Linked DNA regions of Homo sapiens. The protein of the gene in region 1 binds, or shares a complex with, the protein of each later gene. Each region holds a gene or a part of one and is shown on either strand. Other genes may lie near its edges. A codon is read from its position in the direction of its gene.

Region 1 (3,746 bases):
ACAAGTCTCAAGGTATTTTTGCATACATTATCTTATTTAATCTGGTGCTATATAGATAGCATGGTGGATATATAAGTTGTGGTCCCTACCCTCAAAGAATATCATAAAAAGGCCAGACGTGGTGGCTCACGCCTGTAATCCCAGCACTTTGGGAGGCCAAGGTGTGCGGATCACAAAGTCAGGAGATCGAGACCATCCTGGCTAACAAGGTGAAACCCCGTCTCTACTAAAATTAAAAAAAAAAAAACATAGCCGGGTGTGGTGGCGGACGCCTGTAGTCCCAGCTACACAGGAGGCTGAGGCAGGAGAATGGCGTGAACCCGGGAGGCGGAGCTTGCAGTGAGCCGAGATCACACCACTGCACTCCAGCCTGGGCGAGAGCAAGACTCCGTCTCAAAAAAAAAAAAAAAAAGAATATCATAAAAACATGTGCACAGGTATCTATAAACCTAAATGAAAAAAAGATCACTCAAGGTCATTATTTGAAAATGAAGAAAGCCAAGGCAATGTAAACTTCATAATAATAATACAACAGCAAAGAATGGGAAGTAATCTGCTTGCTGTACTTGCAAATATTCATTACTTGAATAAACTGAAAAAGAAATCTAAAATATGAAAGAATAACTAAATGGAGTCTATGAAATAAAATGGAAAGAATTTTGATAGTTTAAGAAGAAAATAATGGCTGGGCAAGGTAAGCACCTGTAATCTCAGCTACTCAGAAGGCAGAGGTAGGGGGAATCACTTGAGGTCAGAAGTTCAAGACCAGCCTGAGCAACATAGCAAAATGTCTCTAAAAAAAATTTAAAAATTAGCCGGGAGTGGCAGGGCATGCCTGTAGTCCCAGCCACTTGGGAAGCTGAGGCATGAAGATCCTGAGCCCCAGAATTCAAGGCTGTAGTGAGCTATGAATGTGCCTATGAACAGTCACCACACTCCAACGTGAGCAACATAGTGAGACTCCCATCTCTTAAAAAAAAAGAAGAAAATACAAAGGATGAGTTAAGTACTACCTTAAATACTACCTTTTTTAAGTGTAGAAAGTTTAAACGATGAAGTTATCTGACTGAATCTCTTTGCTGATAGAAGAAAACAAGCCATGATAAAAATAGCCAGACATGGCCGTGCGCAGTGGCTCATACCTGTAATCCCAGCATTTTGGGAGGCTGAGGCAGGTGGATCACCTGAGGTCAGGAGTTCAAGACCAGCCTGGCCAACATGATGAAACCTCGTCTCTACTAAAAATACAAAAAAATTAGCCAGGCATGGTGGTGCACACCTACAATCCCAGCTACTCAGGGGGCTAAGGCAGGAGAATCGCTTGAACCCAGGAGGCGGAGGTTGCAGTGAGCTGAGATCGTGCTACTGCACTCCAGCCTGGGTGACAGAGCAAGACTTTATCTCAAAATAAATAAATAAATAAATAAATAAATAAATAAATAATAAATAAATAAATAAATAAATAAAAATAGCCAGACACAGTGGCTCACACCTATAACCCAAGCTACTAGGGGAGGATCGCTTGAGCCTAGGAGTTCAAGGCTGTAGTGAGCTATGATTGCACCAGTGCACTCCTGCCTAGGCAACAGGGCGAGACCCTGTCTCTAAATAAATGAAGATGCTATTTTAAAAATATTTCAAAATAAGAGCTTCTTGCTTATCCACCACATAATAATCGGATACCCTGAGATATCTTATTAAGAAACAAGCGTTTAAGACACAAATTTTTCACATAAAGCCAGCATTTTCTTTCATGTATACTTCCTAATAATAGAAAGTCCATTTTCAAGGCTTTATTGTTCTGTGAATCTTACTATCGCTCCAGAAGACACAATGTCAACAACCCAAAGTAAGAATTTAGTTTAGAATTTGACTTTAGCTACCCTGTGGAAAAAACTAAAAATTACAAAGTCATCAAATTATCTTTAAATAGGTTATGTGTGTGCATGCTATGGAAATAATGTATATGTACATACATACATAAACACAAACACAGGCTTAAGTTGTCTGACAAAATCACAATTTTAATAACAGAGAAAGTTAAGTACTAAAACTGATCTATTTAATGACAAGTTAAGGTCAAAGTAAGCCTTGAAATTTTTGTATCTGAAAACCAATAGTAGCTTTTTCTGAAAGAGATTTTTTTTAACTTTCAAATTCCATCGTGACAAAATAAGTCATGGAACACATCTCTTTACAAACACTACCTGAAAACTTTAACCTAAGAAAAACTAAAACATTAATTCAAAATAATTTTTCAAATAAAGTCTCCTTAAATATGAAAGCACTGCAGTTACCCTGTGTGCCCTAAGACGGTGGCATGGTGCAATGGTCCCCGCCCTTGGACATCTCTTTGGTTGACATTAGCACCATTCTGTAGGAGGAACTCACACGTCACCAAAGAGCCCTTAAAGGAAAAAAGAGGATAACTATAGACAAAAGCAAATAACAAGAAACAACAATACATTTCTTTTTAAAAACAATTGGTTTTCGTTACTCAAATAGCATTTCCATTTCCTTCTCTCCAAAACAAAAAATATCCCTCAGCCAAGGCAGAGAAATTATAAATTATATTATTTTCTTCCCAAGAACTAATTCTAATAGAGATTCATTTGCAGTTTGTGAACTAGCAAAACACATTATATACTTTCATTATCGGAATTCTCTTCCACTGCAAAAAAACTTGAAACAACCGAAGTGGTGCTCAGAAACCACTACTATTAATAGCACAGAGGTTCCTTCTATTTTCTAACCCATCTCTTGAAGCAAAGACAATACTAAAGCCAGTTCAGAACATATTATGATTTTTTTTAAATATTTGATTGCTACTGAAAATGTCATTGTATAAACGCATACCCCTAATACAGCCTGAATAAGTGGTGTCGCTTTGTTTTCCTCTGAATTGGCCCAGTTCACGTCTGCACCATGAGCCAAAGCCTCAGCCATTTTAGGAAGGTTTTTTTCATATGACGCCCTATAAAGCTGAAGTCCTGGATTAAGATGTTTCGAGTCAAGAAACATAGAAGAATCTTGCCTTTCTCCTTCTGAAAAGCAAACACATACACATCAATAAAAATGAGCTCTTGGCAGAAAAAGAAAAAATTATTTAATAGGTAGAGTTTCAGTTTTGCAAGATAAAAAGAGTTCTGTGGATGAATGGCAGTAAAGATAGCACACTAATGGGAATATACTTAATGCCACTAAACTGTACACTTAAAAATGGTTAAGATGGGCCAGGCACGGTGGCTCACGCCTGCAATCCCAGCACTTTGGGAGGCCGAGGGGGGTGGATCACTTGAGGTCAGGAGTTTGAAACTAGCCTGGCCAACATGGTGAAACCTCGTCTTTACTAAAAATACAAAAATTAACCAGGCATGGTAGCGGGCACCTGTAATCCCATCTACCTGGGAGACTGAGGGACGAGAATCACTTGAACCCGGGAGGCAGAGGTTGCAGTGAGCTGAGATTGCACCACTGCACTCCAGCCTGAGCAATAGAGCGAGACTCAGTCTCAAAAAAAAAAAAAAAAAAAAAGTTAAGATGATAAATTTTATGTGCATTTTATTGCAATTTTTAAAAAATAAAGCTATGACATAAGAAACCATTAATCTATCATAATGAGCTTATGGGAGATTTTCACATAGCTATTCCCCAACATTCAACCTTCTTCTTCTATAAAGACAATCACTGATATGCCAGGCCTTTCTGTTCTTGCCAGTATCCAAGGGATAGGTTAATTACTCTGT
Region 2 (3,746 bases), on another chromosome or scaffold:
CTGGCCGCCCCAGCCATTCCTTCCCACCCGCCAGGAAATCCTCTTGCTACCTTTGTCCTGACAAAGGTTAGGACAGTGACCAGGGCCTGTCCATGGTCCCCACCCAGAGGCCCCAGGCATGCACTCCCCACAGTGCCCGAGGCTGCAGTGTAGACTCCTGACCTCCAGTGGGAGGCAACTCGGACAAGGGTGGGAGGCCCCTTCTCCGCTCCCACCAAGAAAGCCCAAGAGTCCAGCCCCACAATGGCAGGAAGCCATTCATTTTTTTCTAAAAACAGTGGACACAAGTGGGGTGGCCTCAACTTTTGCTGCTGTGCCAATCAAACCTCAGGGAAAGAAAATAATTGTGAGGAATTTAATTCACTTGATTTGGCTTCATTTTCTTGATCTGTTAAAATAATCCTCCCATAGCCCCCCTGCCAGCCCCATCTCTGCACGAACCTACCCCGACCTTTCTGTTGGAACTGAAACCTGTTGGTGTAAATGAGAAGCCATGGCTGCCCTGGGTTTGGAGCTCAGAGGCATCTAGAAGGCAGGACAAGAAATCTGTTGGCCAAAGGGCAAGACCTGCCACCTCTGTGGAACTGCAGGGCCTGCCTTGAGACCAGGTTCCCCAGCTCCCAGAATGGCTGTGGGGACAGGACAACGGGGAGGGAAGGGAGCTGGCACAGGCCCCGGAGAAGGGGCAAGACCCTGTGCAGCGGGGACAGAGGCTGACAACCTGTCGGAGAGAATGAGCAACGCGGAGCCCACTCCACTGGCACGGGCTGGCCGCAGACGCAGCTAGAACGTGCCGCTGTCTCCTCAGGACGCTGCTTGCAGTAAGATGGGCTGGGGAGGGGCGCGGGGAGGGTCTGTTGCAGCAGGCTGGCATCAAGAAGGCAAAAGCCAGAGCAGGACGTGGTGTGCGGCCGGGTAGAGCAATATACACTATGTACAGACTCTGCGAATCAGTCCGCTCGGCGGGCAGCGTCCTCGCCAGGTCCAGGCGCCTTGGCCGGGGAGGAGGGGGCACCAGTAGGGAAGGGCGGGCTGGTCCAACACCTTCTTGGCACTCGAGGAGGGCGGGGGAGGAAGTGCCGATGGCACCTCCCGATACAAAAACATGGAGAGAATTCTTTAAATAACGGCACGAAACTGAGACTGTCCCCCGAGGAACCTCCGTGGGCCTCGGGCTGGGGGAGGGACCGCAGTGCAGTCTCTGCAGTGGACTGGGTGCCATTAGCAGCAGCGTTTCTTTCGTTTACTGTTCTTCGTGAGCTTCACCACATCGTTCTGTTGTTGCTGCTGCTGTTTTGCCAGGTTGTCTTTCTTTGCTCGGAGGACCAGCTCCGTGATGCAGTTGAACATCTGTGGAGAGGAAAGAGGAAGGGCCCGCCTCAGACCTGGCCAGGAGGCCCCTGCTGGCCTGCACGGCTGCCTCCCCGCCTTCCGGGGCCCAGCTCTTTCTACCTGTGCATTTTTGGTATGTATGTCTTCAAAGCCTATTCTAGAAGGAGGTGGTGAATTATTTTATTTAAAGGTCAAAAAGGAACAACATTGCTAAAACCCCACCTCTACAAAAAACACAAAAATTAGCCGGGAGTGGTGGTGCACACCTGTAGTCCCAGCTACTTGAGAAGCTAAGGTGGGAGGATTACTTGAGCCCAGGAGATCGAGACTACAGTGGGCTGTGAACACACCACTGCACTCCAGCCTGGATGACAGAGTTAGACCCTGACTCAACAAATAAATAAGTCTGAAAAAAGGAACACCATCAGAGGCCCATGAGCTGTGTGGACTTGGGGAAGTCAATCTCACAGGGGTTTTCCAGTCCTTCTTTTAGAGAGACCAACCCCTTTCCTTCAGCTGGAATCTTTTTTTTTTTTTTTTTTTTGTGAGATGGAGTCTCGCTCTGTCGCCCAGGCTGGAGTGCAGTGGCGTGATCTCAGCTCACTGCAAACTCTGCCTCCCTGGTTCACACCATTCTCCTGCCTCAGCCTCCCGAGTAGCTGGGACTACAGGCGCCCACCACCACGCCCGGCTAATTTTTTTGTATTTTTAGTAGAGACAGGGTTCCACCATGTTAGCCAGGATGGTCTCGATCTCCTGACCTCGTGATCCGCCCGCCTCGGCCTCCCAAAGCACTGAGATTACAGGCGTGAGCCGGCGCGCCCGGCCCAGCTGGAATCTTATGACATGACAGATGAAAGTGCCCCTGCTGTTCACGGACATAGGTGACCCGGGGTCTGCCTGCTCCACGCCACTTCATGGCATGTGGGGCCCAGAGAGGTGAAGTCACCGCCCAAGGTCATACCAGCCTTGCCCACAGGCCCAGGTGGATGGGCCAGCATCAGGACACCAGCCTGACTTACAAAGGAGCCTGTGCCCGCTGCTGTGTGGCCCCTGTGCCCTGAAGCAGTGGGATCCTCGACTTCCACAGGCCTCTGGGCTCCACACAGCACAAGGCGGCCAATGAGGCAGAGGACTGGAGTGGAAACTGTGCTTGGCTTTGGTGTGGGACAGAGGTTTACTCAGTCTCTTACTAGCCAGGTGGTGGTCCTTGAGTTACTTCAACACTTGGAGCCTCAGTTTCCCTATTTGAAATGTGGGTATAATTGTACCTACCTCAGAGGACTGTTGAACTATGAACTAAGATCGTTAAAGGGCCTGGCACATAGTAGGCACTCAATAAATGGCAGTTACTATGACATTTTCTGTTGGTCATTTAGATGCCTCAAGCAGGCCAGCAGCATGGAGAAGGCGGCCACGGGTGTGTGGCAGAGCCACAGTGGCCCAGGGCCTCACCTCTTCCACGTTGACATTCTCCTTGGCGCTGGTCTCGAACAACTGGATGCCCATCTGCCCGGCGAATTTGTAGGCATCTTCCGTCTCCACCACCTTCCGCTCAGGGTCGTCATTCTTATTACCCACTTCAAACGAAGGCAGAGTCAGCGCAGCCCTGAGGGGCGCAGCCGGCTGCCTCTCTCCCACCCAACCCCGACCCGGCCCTGAGTGCAGCCTCACCTAATATTCGGCACACATCATCACAGTTCTGGTTGATTTCGTGAAGCCACCGCTTGACGTTGACAAAGGACTCGGCACTGGTGACGTCGTAAACCACAATGACCCCGTGGGTCCCCCGATAATACCTGCAGGGCCAGAGTGTGCGGCAGCATGTCAACCCCGACAGGAGTCACCCCCTTGCCGGGACCCACCTGCCCACGTCAGGACACTGACCCGGAAAAGGTGAGGGTGGCCCTGGAGCCTGGGCTCTCACTCAGCCTCGGCAGATGCCCCCGAGCCACAACAGGCCAGCAGGAGAGGCTACTGCGGCAGCACTGACTCCCCCTGCCCGCCCGGGGCACCAACAGGGCGGGAGGGCCAGCCCCTGGGCAGCAGAGCAGGTCTGAGGAGTCACCTCCTGCTGTTCAGAGTCTGCTGCAGGCTTGAAACATCTTTGAAGTTCTTGCTTTATTTTGGGAAATCAGGCAGTTTTTGTATTTGACATCATGTTATCACTGTCTTTGAACATTCAAAAAAATATTTGCTCCTCAAACCTGTTTTAGAGAACCTTTCCAAGAAGCCACACCATCATGACGCCCTGGCAAAGTCTGTGCCCCTCCCCTGGGGCAGGTAGGCACCTCCCTTCCTGCTACTCTTGGCTCATCTGTGCAGGTGGCAGGAAAAGCATGGAAGCCACACAAGCATCCAGGGATGGCTGGGGAGAGGGCGCCCAGCAAAGCCATCACCCCAAACATGCAGAG

Evidence for each region. Proteins that work in one complex are often made in the same cells at the same time.
Region 2: the proteins of ACAP2 (region 1) and RAB35 are in contact, whole or in part, in a crystal structure (PDB 6IF3), measured with the Homo sapiens proteins. Residues at the interface, in NP_036419.3 of Homo sapiens: Val715, Ala718, Asn719, Ala720, Asp721, Val723, Thr724, Arg727, Leu728, Arg730, Met731, Glu734, Met735, Ser738, Glu748, Thr749, Gln751, Arg755, Asp756, Gln759, Met760; in NP_006852.1 of Homo sapiens: Arg3, Asp4, Tyr5, Leu8, Ile41, Gly42, Val43, Asp44, Phe45, Ile47, Lys58, Gln60, Trp62, Phe70, Arg71, Thr72, Ile73, Thr76, Arg79 (codon at 3,124).

What each region holds. Positions count from the first base shown.
Region 1 is NC_000003.12:195,289,409-195,293,154, forward strand, and holds part of ACAP2 (arf-GAP with coiled-coil, ANK repeat and PH domain-containing protein 2), read right to left. Parts: intron 3,045-3,746; coding exon 2,857-3,044; intron 2,408-2,856; coding exon 2,298-2,407; intron 1-2,297. UniProt on the Homo sapiens protein: GTPase-activating protein (GAP) for ADP ribosylation factor 6 (ARF6). Doesn't show GAP activity for RAB35.
Region 2 is NC_000012.12:120,096,024-120,099,769, forward strand, and holds part of RAB35 (ras-related protein Rab-35), read right to left. Parts: intron 3,132-3,746; coding exon 3,007-3,131; intron 2,913-3,006; coding exon 2,788-2,912; intron 1,351-2,787; coding exon 1,222-1,350; 3' UTR 1-1,221. UniProt on the Homo sapiens protein: The small GTPases Rab are key regulators of intracellular membrane trafficking, from the formation of transport vesicles to their fusion with membranes.